Regions from separate parts of the Homo sapiens genome. Here region 1 is linked to region 2. Evidence: fine-mapped expression QTL. Tissue or cell type: whole blood. Region 2 holds a variant in brackets; the other region holds the start of a gene. All regions are shown on one strand. Distances are between the middles of the regions.

Evidence for each region. PIP is the estimated chance that this variant, and not a neighbour inherited with it, causes the effect.
Region 1: TIGD3 starts here. The variant in region 2 is fine-mapped to the expression of TIGD3 in whole blood (TOPMed, PIP above 0.99).

The regions. Positions count from the first base shown.
Region 1 is chr11:65,350,194-65,358,292 of GRCh38, forward strand. It overlaps TIGD3 (tigger transposable element derived 3), which reads left to right and starts at 4,558. Exons shown (of 2, transcript NM_145719.3): 1 at 4,558-4,764; 2 at 5,600-7,420. The coding sequence starts at 5,616. The coding sequence ends at 7,031. DPF2 (double PHD fingers 2) reads left to right here. Exons shown (of 11, transcript NM_006268.5): 11 at 1,490-4,069. The coding sequence ends at 1,566. RefSeq lists silencers at 4,286-4,345, 4,436-4,755, 4,776-4,835, 4,846-5,015, 5,076-5,265.
Region 2 is chr11:65,303,882-65,311,980 of GRCh38, forward strand. It overlaps LOC105369344 (a long non-coding RNA gene), which reads right to left. Exons shown (of 3, transcript XR_007062727.1): 2 at 5,132-5,326. It also overlaps a transcript of POLA2 not described here. Among named protein-coding and RNA genes, the nearest start is that of CDC42EP2, 6.9 kb to the right of the region's middle. RefSeq lists enhancers at 6,087-6,694, 6,695-7,302. The variant G/A (reference allele first, on the strand shown) is at 4,625.

The sequences.
Region 1 (8,099 bases), 46 kb after region 2:
AGTGTCCTCACTGTAGTGTTAAGGCAGCTGAGGGGCAACCCCTAGAAGTATCAGATGTTCTAGGTCAGGGTCAGCAAGCTACAAGCTAAAACCTATGGACCACATCCAGCCACAGCCAGCTTAAATAGCTTGCAAGCTGTTTTGTTTTCTTTTCTTTTCTCTTTTTCTTTTTCTTTCTTTCTTTTTTTTTTTTTTTTTTGAGACAGTGTCTTGTTCTGTTGCCCATGTTGGAGTGGAGTGGCATGATCTCAGCTCACTGCAACCTCTGCTTCCCCGGGCTCAGGTAATCTGGTAATCCTCCCACCTCAGCCTCCTGAGTACCTGGGACTACAGGCATGCCACCACACCCGGCTAATTTTTGTATTTTTAGTAGAGACGGGGTTTTGCCATGGTGCCCAGGCTGGTCTCGAACTCCTGGGCTCAAGTGATCCACCCACCTCAGCTTCCCAAAGTGCTGGGATTACAGGTGTGAACCACTGCATCTAGCCTGAAGAAAATCCCCTTAAAAATATAAAAACTGGCTGTGCACTGTGGCTCGCATCTGTAATCCCAGCACTTTGGGATCTCTTGAGCCCAGGGGTTCAAGACCAGCCTGGGCAGCATGGCAAAACCCCATCTTTACTAAAAATAGAGAAATTAGCTGGGCGTGGTGCTGTGCGCTTGTAATCTCAGCTACTATAGAGGCTGAGGCAAGAGAATTGCTTGAATCTGGGAGGCAGAGGTTAGAGTAAGCTGAGATCACACTGCTGTACTCCAGCCTGAGCAACAGAGCGGAAACTCTTGTCTCAGAAAAAAAAAAAATAAAGGGAGTTAAAAAAAAAATGCATGAGACTGTATGTGGCTCACACACCCTAAAATATTTAACACTCTGGCTCTTTACAGAAAACTTTGCCAACCGTATTGACCTTTGGGTTAGAAAGGACTTACATTTTTGAGTCACCTGTTTCTGAAGAGCTGATAAAAGCCCTAGAATAATGTCCAAATGCGCATAGGTATAATTTTGCTTATCATTTCAAGGCATTAAGGACTAATTTTATTCAAAAAAAATTAGAAGAATTCAGCCATAGTCAATATTAATAAACAAGGAATGACCCAATTGTTTTTCATATAAGGGACAATTATTTTGTGTTTTTTAGTGAAACTACACAAGTCTTAAAACTGAGGTGCTTGACAAACTTCTGTCTTCCCAGGCCCTCTTCCTACTCCCAAAACTTCTGATTTAATAGGGCCAAGAGGGCCTGGGCATCAGTATTCTGAAGTCCTCTAGATGATTATTTCTTTCATCTCCATAGAGGATGATATTTCATAATATTTGAAGACTTAGAGGTTTATCCCAGCTCAGGAAACCATGGAACTTTCCTGCTGCAGAGCATCCCTCGTCCTACCTGTAGCTGATCCTGCTATAGAGATGGGGTATCAAGAGCAGAGGAATTGCAAGCAGGTGGGGATTGTGTGGGACCCATCCTGACCCCATTTTGCCTCTCTGCAGGAAGTTGGAGCTGCCACCTGTGTCTGGACCTGTTGAAAGAGAAAGCTTCCATCTACCAGAACCAGAACTCCTCTTGATGTGGCCACCCACCTGCTCCCCGACATATCTAAGGCTGTTTCTCTCCTCCACTTCATATTTCATACCCATCTTTCCCTTCTTCCTCCTCTCCTTCACAAATCCAGAGAACCTTGGGGTGGTTGTGCCAGCCTGCCTTTGGCAGCTGCAAGCTGAGGTGGCAGCTCTGACCACCTCTGGCCCCAGGCCCTCAGGGAGAAAGGAGCAACACACTGCCCCTAGGCGTGCGTGTGGCCCAGTTTCTCTCTGCTCTCCATTAAGTGCATTCACTCTGCTTGCCTTGGGCCCAGCCCCTGGTGATCACAGGGTTCAAACAGTGTCCTCCTAGAAAGAGTGGGAGAGCAGCTCACTTCTCTGTGTTCTGCCTCCCCTCTGGTCTCCAGAGTTTTCCTGTCCTCTAGAGGCAAGCCAGGCCAGGGAGCTGGGAGCGAGCAAGCTGAGGCCACGTCCACAAGGAGCTTTTCATGCCCCTGTGCCGCATAGCCTCACCTCTTTCCTCCAGAGTGGCTCTCTGCGGCCCTGTGTTCCTGCTACAGAGTGTTCTTTTCTGGAGTCAGGATGTTCTCGGTCACCCTCCTGGTTCTGCCCTGTCCCATTCCACCCCACCCCAGGGGGAACAGTAGCTTCACCTTGTTATTCCCATTGCTCTCCTGGCTCACTCTTACGGTCGGTCTCCAGTGACTGAAGCATTCCCCACCCTTGGAATTTCTCATCTTCTGCCTCCCTTCCTACTCCTTTTGGTTTTGTGGGGAGAGGGGAAGGATCAGGGGGCCAGGCCAGCAGCTCGGGGGCCACAAGGAGATGGATAATGTGCCTGTTTTTTAACACAACAAAAAAGCCTACCTCCAAAATCCCCTTTTTGTTCTTCCTGGACCTGGGCATTCAGCCTCCTGCTCTTAACTGAATTGGGAGCCTCTGCCACCTGCCCCGTGTATCCTGGCTCTCAGCTCATGGGGAAGCCACATAGACATCCCTTTCTTCCCTTGCACGCTCGCTAGCAGCTGGTAAGGTCTTCACACCCTGATTCCTCAAGTTTTCTGCTTAGTGGCACTGACATTAAGTAGTGGGGGGACAGTCCATGCCAGGACACCCTGGAGTAGCCTTCCCCCTTGGCCGTGGGCAGGCCCTAACTCACTGTCGCTTTGGAGTTGAGGTGTCTTTTTTTTTTCTTTCTTTAGTTCCTGTATTCTAAACATTAGTAAAAATAAATGTTTTTACACAGAGCCCTCTGCTGGATGGTTTATCTCCTGCCTTTCTCCATTAAGAAGGCCATTTCATCCTAAGATTTCCATGATGGTGGTTTTTTTTTTTAATGTTTTGAAATACAGCTTTTTTCCCCCCAAATTAAAATTTTTTTGTGGAACCCCAATATGTAAAGCGAATATAAAATTGGTTATTTTGTTTTGTTACATAAATTCAAGTTTATAACAATTCTTTGTTATAAAGAACAATGAAGCTGTTTTGATCAATACAAAATTTGGGTTAAAATCAACTTTAACATCTATTTTTATGTTTCAGTTGATTTGGAGAATTCTCCTAGTCTTGGATACATAGATGGAAGTGATGACAGGTTTATAACAGTTGACCTTGCAATCTCAGACATTTAAAACAGGACCAGAAGTTTATATAAATATAATTAATAAGCAAACTAATGACATCACCATGGGACACACACAAAAGTTCTTGCAGGAGCAGGGTCTGTGTGGCTTCAGTTGCCTGCAGCGCTCCCAGGCCAGAGCAAGTGCTCTAGGATCTGAACTGCCCGCAGTGCAGCCCTGCAGCCTTTCCCAGGGCACGTTGATGTGCACACAGTTTCCCTGAAGGCAAAGTGAACATGTGGAGAGCTTACGTGGCAGCGCGTATGTCTTCAGTGTGTGTTTTAGAAGTCCAACTGTTGTTTTTATGTTTTTAAAGGAAAGATTTGAATCAAGCAGTTATGGGCCCCCTGAAGTATCCTTTTTTCTAGAACATTCTGAAAGTCATCCTTGCCTATGGGAAGCCTAGGCCGGCCTGCACTGTTATGTTCAATAAATAAGCAGGGTGCTCTGGGCTGGGGATTGTGTGAGGAGCAGAGCGCAGCCCGTCCTCATGCTTTTCCACTGAAGTAGGCCAGGCAGAGAGGGAGTACAGCAATGGATGCGCTTTGGCAGCTGAGTAGTCCGAGAGCCAGAAAAGAAATGTGGAAAATAAGAACGCTGTAGCAGGCCTAGGTGAGGAAATTTAGGAAGGGTTTGCGGGAGGTAGGATTTGAGATGGGTCTTGGAGAGTTGGACAGTGTCAGCCGGTAGGACGGGGGTGCGGACGGAAGCCTGTGAGGAAGGCAGAGGATGCGGAGCTGTGAGCGGAGGGAGCAGCGAGGCTGGAGAGCAGCTGGGCTGCGGGTCAAGACGTCTGCGTTTAATTCGGGACTGAAGGTTAGCAGGGAAGGGAACGATGCCAGATCTTGAGTTTAAGAACTTGAATCTTGTAAAGTACCAAATCTAATAAAATACTCGTCCTAAATCATTACTGGCCCAAGCATGCAGTGTTTCCGTGGCCGACAGACTCGAGCCAGCGCTGTCCATGGTAACCAGCTTTTGTGTGGCTTAAAGCTTGCATCCATTTTCTCCTTTCATCGTTTTCCCAAAACAATTCCGTGAGGGCTGTTAGCCCTGCTTGGTAGACGAAGAAGCCGATGCGGTCTAGGGTCACGGCCAGGGAGGCTTTGGGACGCCAAGTCAGCTCGGCGGTCACCACACCACCTACAGGGCTCGTCGGGCCCTCGGGGTCGGCGGCTGCTGGAGGCGCCCAGGGGAGTCCTGCTGGTTCCTGGCTCCGCCTCCCGCCCCTCCGCGCTAGAAGCCCCGCCCCCAGAGGGGCTCGACGAACCGCCACTTCCGCAACGTCCAATGAAACTTAGCCGGGGGAGGGACGGGGCGCCACTGAGGACCAATCTGCTTGGGCCGGGGCGGGGCTGCGGCGGGTGGGTGCAGAGGGGCCGCACCGCGGACTTCGCAGCCGGGAGAGAGCCCGGCGCGGGCGGCGCGCACGGGACTCTGCTGTGCGCGCGCCCGCCCGCCCGCCGTCCGCGCAGGCCCTCGGTCCGCTCTGCCCTCGGGGTCGTGGCGCCCATCCCTCCCCTGTTCTGCTGTCGCCGCCCGGACAGGGGCTCGGGAGCCGGGCTGGGGGCAGGGGCTGGAGCCGCGGGACCAGCGCCTGAGGTGGGTGCGGAGCGGGAGGCCGGGCGGGCGGGCGCCTGGGGCCGCCCCGCCGACATACTCCGGGTCGAGGGGGAGTGACCGGCCAGGGCACGGAGTCCGGCTGCCGGCCTGCCTGGGTCCGGGCGTTCGTTCCCGCGCCCTGGGACCCTCCCAGGCCACCACCCTCCCCGCGGGGACACCCCGCCCCTCCGCTGCCCGCAGCCTCCTCAGGCCTCCCGCCCTTTGTCGCTCGTGCACCTGCGCCCTCGGCCCTGCCCTCTCGCTCCCCTCAGGACTGACCGTCGCCTAGCCTCCCTCTCAGGACCCGGCACCAAATTAGCCTCGCTCCTTCAGACACCCTCTGTCCCCTTTGTCGTCTGTACACCTGTCACCTCAACTCTGTGTGCATCCACCCACCTCCCACCCCCCAGCGGCGTCATCTGAATCCAGCCCAAGCCGCCTCCCACTCCCTCCCGGGGGCTCCTCCCCCGCAGCCCCGTAGCCCCACACCTGCCCCCTCGGCCCCAGTCCCAGGCCCTCCCCCGTCCGTATGCCTTTGTTATCTCTGCAGCTGTCCCCTGCACTTTTCATCCTTCTTCCCGAGTGAGGCCAGACCCCAGCCCAGACTCCCCTGTCCTTCTGAGTGGAGAGACGCCCCCTCCCCAGCTCTGCCCTGGCATCCTGGGGACGGGGCCAGCCGGCTTCCACTCGGCCTAGCCACTTCCTCTTTCAGCGGGTCCAGTCTCACCCGGTGCCTGCGCAAGTCCTCATCTAATCTCTTTTCCCTCCTGCGCTCCTTTCCTAGCTCTTCCGGCCTCAGATTACTCTACCCGCTCAATCTTTCCTCCCCGCACAGGTGCCCCGGAGAGGCCATGGAGCTGAGCAGCAAGAAGAAGCTTCACGCCCTGTCCCTGGCCGAGAAGATCCAGGTGCTGGAACTCCTGGATGAGTCCAAGATGTCCCAGTCGGAGGTGGCCCGGCGCTTCCAGGTTTCCCAGCCCCAGATCTCGCGCATCTGCAAGAATAAGGAGAAGCTGCTGGCGGACTGGTGCAGCGGCACAGCCAACCGAGAGCGCAAGCGCAAGCGGGAGTCCAAGTACAGCGGGATCGACGAGGCTCTGCTCTGCTGGTACCACATTGCCCGGGCCAAGGCCTGGGACGTGACGGGGCCCATGCTGCTCCACAAAGCCAAGGAGCTGGCCGATATCATGGGCCAGGACTTCGTGCCCAGCATCGGCTGGCTGGTCCGCTGGAAACGCCGAAACAACGTCGGCTTTGGGGCCCGCCATGTTCTTGCGCCTTCATTCCCCCCTGAGCCACCTCCCCCGGGGCTCACATCCCAGGCTCAGCTGCCTCTTTCCCTAAAAGACTTCTCTCCAGAGGACGTGTTTGGCTGTGCTGAATTGCCCTTGCTGTATCGGGCAGTGCCCGGCAGCTTTGGTGCATGTGATCAAGTACAGGTGCTGCTGTGTGCCAACAGCAGGGGCACCGAGAAGCGGCGGGTACTGCTGGGTGGGCTCCAGGCTGCCCCGAGATGCTTCTTTGGGATCCGCAGTGAGGCTCTGCCTGCCTCCTACCACCCGGACCTGGGCATCCCCTGGTTAGAGTGGTTGGCACAGTTTGACCGGGACATGGGACAGCAGGGCCGACAGGTGGCTTTGCTGCTGGCTGCCCGAGTGGTGGAGGAGCTGGCAGGCCTGCCTGGGCTCTACCACGTGAAGCTCTTGCCTCTGGCCGCCTCTAGCACCACGCCTCCCCTGCCCAGCTCAGTGGTCCGGGCCTTTAAGGCCCATTACCGACACCGGCTGTTGGGCAAACTGGCTGCCATCCAAAGCGAGAGGGATGGCACCTCGCTGGCCGAGGCCGGGGCAGGCATCACCGTGCTGGACGCCCTGCACGTGGCGTCTGCCGCCTGGGCCAAGGTGCCTCCTCAGCTCATTTTCAGCAGCTTCATTCAAGAAGGGCTGGCTCCCGGCAAAACGCCCCCGTCCTCGCACAAAACCTCTGAGATGCCACCAGTCCCCGGCGGGCTGAGCCTGGAGGAGTTTTCCCGCTTTGTGGACCTGGAGGGTGAGGAGCCAAGGTCTGGAGTATGTAAGGAGGAGATAGGCACTGAAGACGAGAAGGGGGACAGAGAGGGTGCCTTTGAGCCCCTGCCCACCAAAGCTGATGCCCTCCGGGCCCTGGGCACCTTGAGGAGGTGGTTTGAATGCAACAGCACTTCTCCTGAGCTATTCGAAAAATTCTACGACTGTGAGGAGGAGGTGGAGCGGCTTTGCTGCCTATGAAGGCGCCTTCACTGCTTGCCAGAGCCCCTTCCTCTCTTGTTTCCCATGGAAACGGCCTCTTCAGAAGGCAGATCGGGCTGTCTCTTTCCTGTGGAAATAGAACTGTCGTAAAGGTGTAGAAGGGAGAGAAGTTGGGACACCAAGTCTGAGCTTGGAGTGGCAGTCGTCCAAACCCCAGGAAGAGAGCTCTAAAGATGGGGCTTCGGGGGTAGGAATCCAGGATGCTTAGTTTCTAGACCCTGCTTGAAAGTTCTAGAGCCTTTGAAAGGGAGTTAGTCTAGAGGCAGCCACTTAGAAAGGTGGAATTTGGGCTTTTTGGACAGACTGCTTCCTTGAACTTTGTGTTAAAAACAGTTCTGCTTCTGAAAATAAAGTTTTTAATCAGAAAAGAGGCCAGGGTGTTATTTTCATGGGAGAAGGGTAAACATTTTCCATTCAGATTTGGAAAATTAATTGCTGATGGTCACTGCGGTGCAGCTGTCTGTCCATGACCAGTAGGGATCCTCCTTTTCCAGATATTCAGCAGCAAGGACTCTCAGGGTGTGGGCACTGCTTGTGGGCTACCCTCCTGAGAGGGAAGCTCCAGGACAGACAGATCCCAGCTACTGCCCCAGATAAGCTGCAGCTCCAATAGTTTCGCTCTCAGATTGTGTGTGTTTGGGGTTGGGCAGGCTACGGACATGTCAGGGAAACAGAAAGGAGCCGGAATTGGAATGGAATAGTCATTCATTCTTTCTTTTTTTTTTTTCATTTGCTTATTTCACAACATCACTTCAGCAAGACCTCCTATGTGAACAAGGTTGCAAAGATGATGTCTCTTCTGGACAGAACCTTGCAGCCAATGACAGTGGAGTGTGATTAAGGCTGTGATAACGGCTGTGCAAAGTGCCTGGCCCCATAGAGCTAGGGAGACTCCAGGGGGAGGTGAGCTTTGAGCTGCAGTTTGAAGGGCGTCCCAGGCCAAGGGACAGCGTGTGCAGAGTCTGATTGGAGTGAAGGAGCACAGTGTGCTGGGGGCGGGGGCAGGCAGTTCTGCCAGAGCATAGCATACTTGCGGAGGTAGGGGCA
Region 2 (8,099 bases):
TCCTCGGCAGCGGGATGCAGAAATGAATGAGTGGACAGAATCTCTGCTGCCACCCAGAGCTGCCACTCCAGCACAGAAACCTGTAAACAGTGGACACTGCAGAGCATCAGATGGAGTCAAGTGTGTCAGATGGAGAAAACCAGAGCAGGCCAAGGGCAGAGGTGCCTGGAGTTGTGGTGGGTGCTGCACAGAGGAGGGGTCACCAGCTCCCAACTTTTATTTCCTAAACATGTGTCTCCCATACACCCTCTTCTTGCTATCCCCGGCATCCTACCATCCACCCATCCGTCCACCCATCCATTTACCTAACCATCCATTCTTCCATCCATCCGTCCATCCATTCATCTACCCACCCACCCATCTATCTATCCATCCACGTAACCATCCATCCTTTCTTCCATCCATCCATCCTTCCATCCACCCACCCACCCACTCATCCATCCATCCATAGACTTAACCATCCATCCATTCATCCATCCACCCACCCATGAACTTAACCATCCATCTTTTCATCCATCCATCAACCCACCCATCAACCCACCCATCCACCCAACCATCCACCCACCCACCCATCCATCCACTCATCCATATTCACTGGGTGCCTACCACATGGCACACACTCTGGGGGACTGGCTATGATCCAATGGAAAATGGACATGAACCAAATGACAACGCCACGGAGAGGTCCATGGTCCAGAGTTTCCCACGGTATCACAAGGTGACCCAACATCAATGGGGGTCCAGAAAGCTTCCCTGAGGGGAGACATCACAGCTGAGAGCCACGGGAGGCATGGGGGTGGCCAGGTGAGGTGGAGGGAGCAAATCGCAGGGCTCATGGAGGAGCATGTGCAGGGACCTAGCCCTGGAGGCTGGGCACCGCCGACAGCTGACAGGCACATGTTCAGGGCAGCAGGCATGGAGCACTGGCTGGAGGCTGAAGAGGCTAGCAGGGGCCCTGCTGCAGGTTTGTGACCATGGCAGCACACGAACAGGGCACGTGGCAGTCAGAGTGGTGTTTTTGTCTATCACCATGTGGTGTGGAGAATAGGCAGGCAGCACATCATCCTGGCCCCCAAAACCCTTGCGGGCTCCATTCTCCCCCCACCCCCACCCTGTCACCCAAGTTGTAAGCCTGGACTGGGCCTGACTCCCCCTTCTTCCTCCATGGCCCTCCATGGGGGCTAACCTATCACCTAATCTCAGCCTTTCAACTTCATCATCTCCATCTCCAGCTCTCACACCACTCTTCAGGACCAAATTTTCTCTCCCTTCTACGCTAACTGTCCCCAGAAGTGGCCTCTGCCTCTAGTCTGGCCTCCCTCCAGGCCCCCCTCTCCAAAGCTGCCCGGCACCACCTCTGCAGAAATTCTGCAGTTCATTCACCAAAAAGAAACACATGTGGCTCTTAAGCAAATGAAAAGGTGACCAGCCTCACGCATCGTAAGAGAAACGCAAACTCTAACTACACCCAAATTCCTTTGTTTTGTTTAGTTTTTGCCTTTCAGATGGACAAAAATCAAAATAGGTGGAAACCAGGGGCTGGTGAGCCTGAGGAGAAACAGCCCTGTTGACTGTGTGGGGGCCTGGTACCTGGCACAGTCTCCAAGAAGGACAAGCTGACAGAGCTGACAAAATGACCACTGCAAGCTGGGCACGGTGGTGCGTGCCTGTAGTCCCAGCCACGCAGGAGGCCAAGGCGGGAGGATGGCTTAAGCCCAGGAGGTCGAGGCTGCAGTCAGCTATGATGACACCATTGTACATTGTACTCCAGCCTGGGTGACAGAGCAGGACCCTGTCTCTAAAATAACAATAATAAGACACCACTGCATGTATCTTTTGCCCCCCAGTCCTCCCAAGTCCCTTCTGGGAATGTATTCCGCAGCAGCGCTCGTGCATGTGTGAAAGGGCTTTTGTACAGATGACTCACTGCGGCACGGCCTGTCTTGAGAAAGGGCTGGAAGCAACCTGAAGGTCCCTCTGCCAAGAAGTGCATCTGTAAATTACCATACATCCTTGTGCTGGAATACCGTGCAGCTGTGAAAATGAGGACACACTCTATGTATTGATGTAGAGTGGTCTCCAAAATATAACGTTAACTGGAAAACGCAAGGTGTCAAACAGCATGAACAGCAGAGGCTCAATGAAAGGGCTTCTCACAGTCCCGAGCAGGACGGCCCTCCGCCAGCTACCACCAGGGCCTGCAGTACTTTGGAACTCTACTTGTCTAAATATTGACATTTGTGTTAAAAAAAAAAAAAATGAGAGGGGCCCTGCTCGTTCATGCAAGAATATCCCTAGAAGTGTTTACAAGAAACTGATAACACCAGTTGGCTATAGCAGAATGGAGAACTGTCCCTGGGGGACAGGGATGAGACTTCTTGCCTCTTAGGACTTCAGAATTTCTTTTTCTTTCTTTCTTTTTTTTTTCTTTTTGAGATGGAGTTTCACTCTGTCGCTCAGGCACCCAGTACAGTGGTGTGATCTTGGCTCACCACAACCTTCGCCTCCCAGGTTCAAGCGACTCTCCTGCCTCAGCCTCCTGAGTAGCTGGGATTACAGGCACCCACCACCATGCCTGGCTAATTTCTGTATTTTTAGGAGAGACGAGGTTTTGCCATGTGGGCCAGGCTGGTCTCGAACTCCCGACCTCAGGTGATCCGCACCCCACCCCCTACCTTGGCCTCCCAAACTGTTGGGATTACAGGTGTGAGCCACCATATCCAGCCAACTTCTGAATTCTGAATCACATGAAAGCATTACCTCAGCCAGGCGCTTTGGCTCACCCTTATAACCCCAGCACTTTGGGAGGCCGAGGCAGATGAATTGCTTGAGCCCAGGAGTTCAAGACCAGCCTGGACAACATGGCGAAAACCCGTCTCTACAAAAAATACAAAGATTAGCAAATGGCATGTGCCTGTGGTCACAGCTACTCAGGAGGATTGCTTGGGCCCAGGAAGTTGAGGCTGCAGTGAGCAGTGATCACGCCGCTGCATTCCAGCGATACAGCAAGACCCTATCTCAAAGAAAGAAAAAGAAAAGAAAGAGCATTACCTAATCAAAAAGTAATTATTATTATTATTATTATTATTTTATTATTTTGAGACAGAGTCTCACTCTGTCGCCTAGGCTGGAGTGCAGTGGCACAATCTTGGCTCACTGCAACCTCCGCCTCCCAGGCTCAAGTGATTCTCCTGCCTCAGCCTCCTGAGTAGCTGCGACTACAGGCACGTGCCACCACGCCTCGCTAATTTTTGTATTTTTAGTAGAGACGGGTTTTCACCATGTTCCCCAGGCTGGTCTCGAACTCCTAACCTCAGCTGATCCACCCGCCTTGGCCTCCCAAAGTGCTGGGATTACAGGCGTGAGCCACCGCACCCGGCCTCAAAAAGTAATTTAAATGAAAGAAAATGCAGTTCTGATGGTGTTGTACCTCTACACACAGATCATCGTTGCCTTTCCCACAGCACTCGGCAACTCTCATGAGTGATCACCTGCCTTTAGCTATTCTGCAATGGGCCCTTCATTCTCAGTGGCAAGTGACAGACCCAACCCTAACTGTATTAAGCCAAAACTGGAATTTGTTGGCTCGTAGAATAGAAACTGCTTCAGGCATGACTGGATCCAGGAGCACAGGCAATGTCATTGAGATTCATTCTCTTGGTGCTGTTTTCTTCTATGTTGGCCTTATTCTTAGGCAGGCTCCCCCCTTAGGGTGGCAGAGCTGGCCACCAGCAGCTCTGGGCTGGCATCTTGACATTTGTGACCCTAACAGTCCCATCAAGTTCCTGGGCTGATGCTCTCTGATGTCATATGCTGGAGCCATTCCCATGACTCAGACTGGCTAGGCACAGGACTCAAACCCACTTTTAGAGCTTGAGGGTTGGGGGCCAGTCACACTGGAGACTAGAAAACTGAGGGACAGTCACCAGAGTGAGAGATGGATGCTGGGCAGGGAAAACAGTGCTTACCCACTACCCTCTTGGCCTGTCCCCTCTCCTATGCCATGGGCAACTGGACCTCTCTTGTTTTCTGCTCATACCATGACTTTACTTGCAATCCTCCTGGCCTTTGCCTTGCCAGGCCTCTGCCTGCTTCCCCTGGAATGTCCTTCCCTTTCTGTGCCTGGCAAACTCCTATTCATCCATTTATGCCCTGTTCACATATCACCTTCTCCTTGAAGCCCTTCTCACTCTCCCATCTGCTTTCCCACCCATAGCAGACAGATCTCATGGCTGTTCTCTTTGGTTTTTCATTCAATTCCCAGTCATTGGCTGAACCCCTCCGTGCTGGCCCGGGAGGGATAAAGGGCAGAATCAATTATTTGTTTCTCACGCAGGTTATCTGTTCCCTGAGGGCTGGGTCCAGCTTTGGCCACCTGTGTCTTCTCTAGTCCAGCATAGCCCTAGGCACAAGAGAGATGCAAGCCTAGGTTTTCAGAATGAGGAATGACAGGATACCTGGAAGGCACAGAAAGTGTGGAAGACAGCCTCTGCTGACTCCACAATTTACTCCCTACGACAAAATGACAGCCTTGGGGCTGGGACGCTCCCAGAGGGCTCTGGGAGGAAGTGCTTGGGCTGGTCCCTGCTAGGACAAGGCTGTCACCACTCTGGAAACCCCCATA[G/A]CCCTGGGCCCGAGGCCAAAATCCAGATGCGAAGGGAAGTGCCCCCAGCAAGGCCCTGCCACCCAACTCCCAAGGAGGGGTCCCAGGCAGAGGCAGCAGCTGGAGCCAACTCCGAGGGTGACCTCTCATCTCAAATCCCAGCCTCCAGTGGGTCACAGTTCTCTGAAGTGGGGTGAAGAGCGAGGAGGGCAGGGCTGGAGTTGGCAGGAGTCCAGGGGAGGAAGGAAGCAAGAAACAAGGAAAAAATCCAACCCAGGTCTGGGGTTGGCTCAGGCCACAGGGCCCTGCAGGCTGAGCTTAGGCTGGGACGTCAGAAGCTTCCAGAGGGTGGCTGAGCACCTTCTCAGCTCCCTGCCACCCTGCATCCCAGCAGAGGGACTGGGGCACCTCCAGAGACCCCTGTCACTTCTTAGCACCTCCCCTAGATGCACCCCCAAGATGCGCCTCCCCTAGATGCCACTCTTCCCTGTGACTCTGCTCCCAGACCCCAAGTCCCTGTCATCTCACCTGCCCCCCAGGGTCCTGGGTTCCAGGTTTCGTGCCCATGGAGAGCTGGCTTCAGCCTCCCTGGGGGTAGGAGGGAGCTTCCCTGCTGGTCTCTCCAATCTGGCCAGTGTTGCCGGAGGGGGCTTCCAACTCCATCCCCCAGGTCCCATGGGGGTGCTATGGCCGCTGGTGATGGCAATTTCCAGGAAGGAGAGGCTGGGAGGGGAAGGAAGGGCTGAGTCAGTCCCTGTGTAGTGATCACAGTCGGGGAGGTGGCTGTGGGGTTGGTTGGGGAGCCTATTGGGCCCATCTCAGGACAAGGGAGAGGCTCCAGGCTGAGGAGACAGAAGCCAAATACCCTGCTCTGGGTGTTTCTCCATCGTGGCCTGCTCTGCCCCTCCCAAATGCCCTTTTGTTTTTTTTTTAATTTTAATTTTTATTTTCTTAGACGGAGTCGCGCACTGTCGCCCAAGCTGGAGGGCAGTGGCGTGATCTCAGCTCACTGCAAGCTCCGCCTCCTGGGTTCATGCCATTCTCCTGCCTCAGCCTCCCAAGTAGCTGGGACTACAGGCACCCGCCACCATGCCAGGCTAATTTTTTGTATTTTTAGTAGAGACGGGGTTTCACCGTGTTAGCCAGGATGATCTCAATCTCCTCACCTCGTGATCGGCCTGCCTCAGCCTCCCAAGGTGCTGGGATTATAGGCGTGAGCCACCGCGCCCGGCCTTTTTTTTTTTTTTTTGAGATGGAGTCTTGCTGTGTCACCCAGGCTAGAGTGCAGTGGTACAGTCTTGGTCACTGCAACCCCTGCCTCCCAGGCTCAAGCAATTCTTCTGCCTCAGTCTCCCAAGTAGCTGGGACTACAGGCGTGTGCCACCACGCCTGGCTAATTTTTGTATTTTTAGTAGAGACGGGGTTTCACCATGTTGACCAGGCTGGTCTCGAACTCCTGACCTCAGTTGATCCGCCCACCTCAGCCTCCCAAAGTGCTGGGATGACAGGTGTGAGCCACCACATCCAGCCCCAGATGCCCTTTTGGATCCTGCCCCTGAGGTAGCAGGGTGTCCAGGAGCCCTTCTGTCCAGGACAGTCCAGGCCCTGGCTGAGGCATCAGACCCTAGGGTCCAGGCTGGGGGATGCAGCGCTTGGCCTGAGTGTCTTGGGTCAAAATGCAGGCCACGCTTCCCCGTGGCTCAGGCTATTCCAGCCTCCCTACCCACACCCCAGGCCCCTACATATAGCCTGAGAACTTGCACAAAAAAGCCAAGTTTAGTAAATGAAATCCTGTTTTATACATGGCCTTATGAATGGCAGGGCTCCCATGGCGATGCTGGGTGTGCACACAAAGATCCTGTCCATTCAGCAGAACCTCCTCAGGGATCCCCTGGGCCCCAGCCAAGTGACAACCACATCTGTGAATGGGGAGAAGGAAGCGCCCTCCCTGCATGCTTGCACAGCGCAGAACCCAGGGCCAGGCGCCGATCACTCCTGCGATGTGGACTTGGTCGGGCCCCCTGCTCTGAATGACAGCAGGAGTGGATTGAGCGGCAAGGGGACTGGCACTGGGCGGAACACGTCACATCCAGGTGGGTTGAAAACAGTCCCCAGAGTGCAGATAGCATTTCTAGTCCTGGTTGGAAGGCTCAGGGAGGAAAGCAGGAGCTTGGACCAGGTTTGCGGGCTCTGCTGCTCTCTATCCCTACCCGAGGGACCCCTAATCACCCACCCCCCACAGAACTTCTTCAAAGAGCTCCGGGGTTGGTCCCCAGCTGTGTGTGGCCTTGGGTGAGAGGCTTTGTTTCTCCATCTTCCATCCCTGTAACTCTGTTTTGTCCCCAGCTCTGAATGGAGTGCCTGACCCTTCCCTGACCGCTACCCCCCAATGGAGGACTCTCAGCAGATGGGCAGGGGATGAGGGCTTGGCCTGAGCCTCATTCCCGCAGGCTTAGGTGGCTTCATCATTACAGCCATTCCGATCAAGCAGCACAGCCAGCTGGCCAGGCCCCAAAGCTCTTGTCTAATGTGTCCGTGAAACAATGCCACCTGAGGGGCTGCGTATTCCCATGAACAAAATACATGCATGTCCATCCCTTATCTGGTTTGGGACTTGCCTGACCTGATGCTACTACCCCATATTATAGGCAAGGAGACTCTGGAAGGGAAGGTCCTTTGCCTGTGGCCACAGAGCAAAGCAGCAGCAGAGACAGCTCAGAATCTGACTGATGGCTCAGAGGCCGGGGCTCAAGGCACTCAGCTGCCCCTCCTCTCTGAGAGCTGTGTCCTGGGGATGGGCAGGAATGATGCCTGTGGGGTTAGAAGCCTGAGAGAAGGAGGGGCCAGAGCCCACATGCCTTGCCACTTCTAGGCTCAGCAAATCACTGTCGGTGCCCTGAGCTTTAGTTCCCATCTGTAAAATGGGGATCGTGATTCAGGCTCTGGCCACGTCACTAGGCACCCCCAGGAGGATGTAAAGAATTCAGGAACATGAAGCAATGGGTAAAGGGCACAGGGCGGCCTGGCAAAGTCCCATGGCAAGAATGGGGAGAGGCACACCCTTTACTCACCCCTACCACAGCTTGGCCCAGGGCCATCATTGCCACTTACTCAATGGTCCAGGCCTGTTTTCCTCCAAGCTGCCAGGCCATTCCTGGCAGAATCCACCTGACCAATACTCCCTGCAGAGTTGAGGGCACACTCAAGATTAAAACCTGAACCTCCTTGGATTCGTTTTCTATCACTGCTACAACAAATTATCATGGAATAGGTGGCTTAAAACAACAGAAATTCGTGATCTTACAGTTCTATAGGTTAGAAGGTCAACATGGGGCTGAGCGAGGTGGCTCATGCCTATAATCCCAGCACTTTGGGAGGCCAAGGTGGGTGGATCACTTGAGGTCAGGAGTTTGAGAGCAGCCTGGCCAACATGGTGAAACCCTATCTATACTAAAAATACAAAAATTAGCCAGGCATGGTGGCGGGCGTCTGTAAC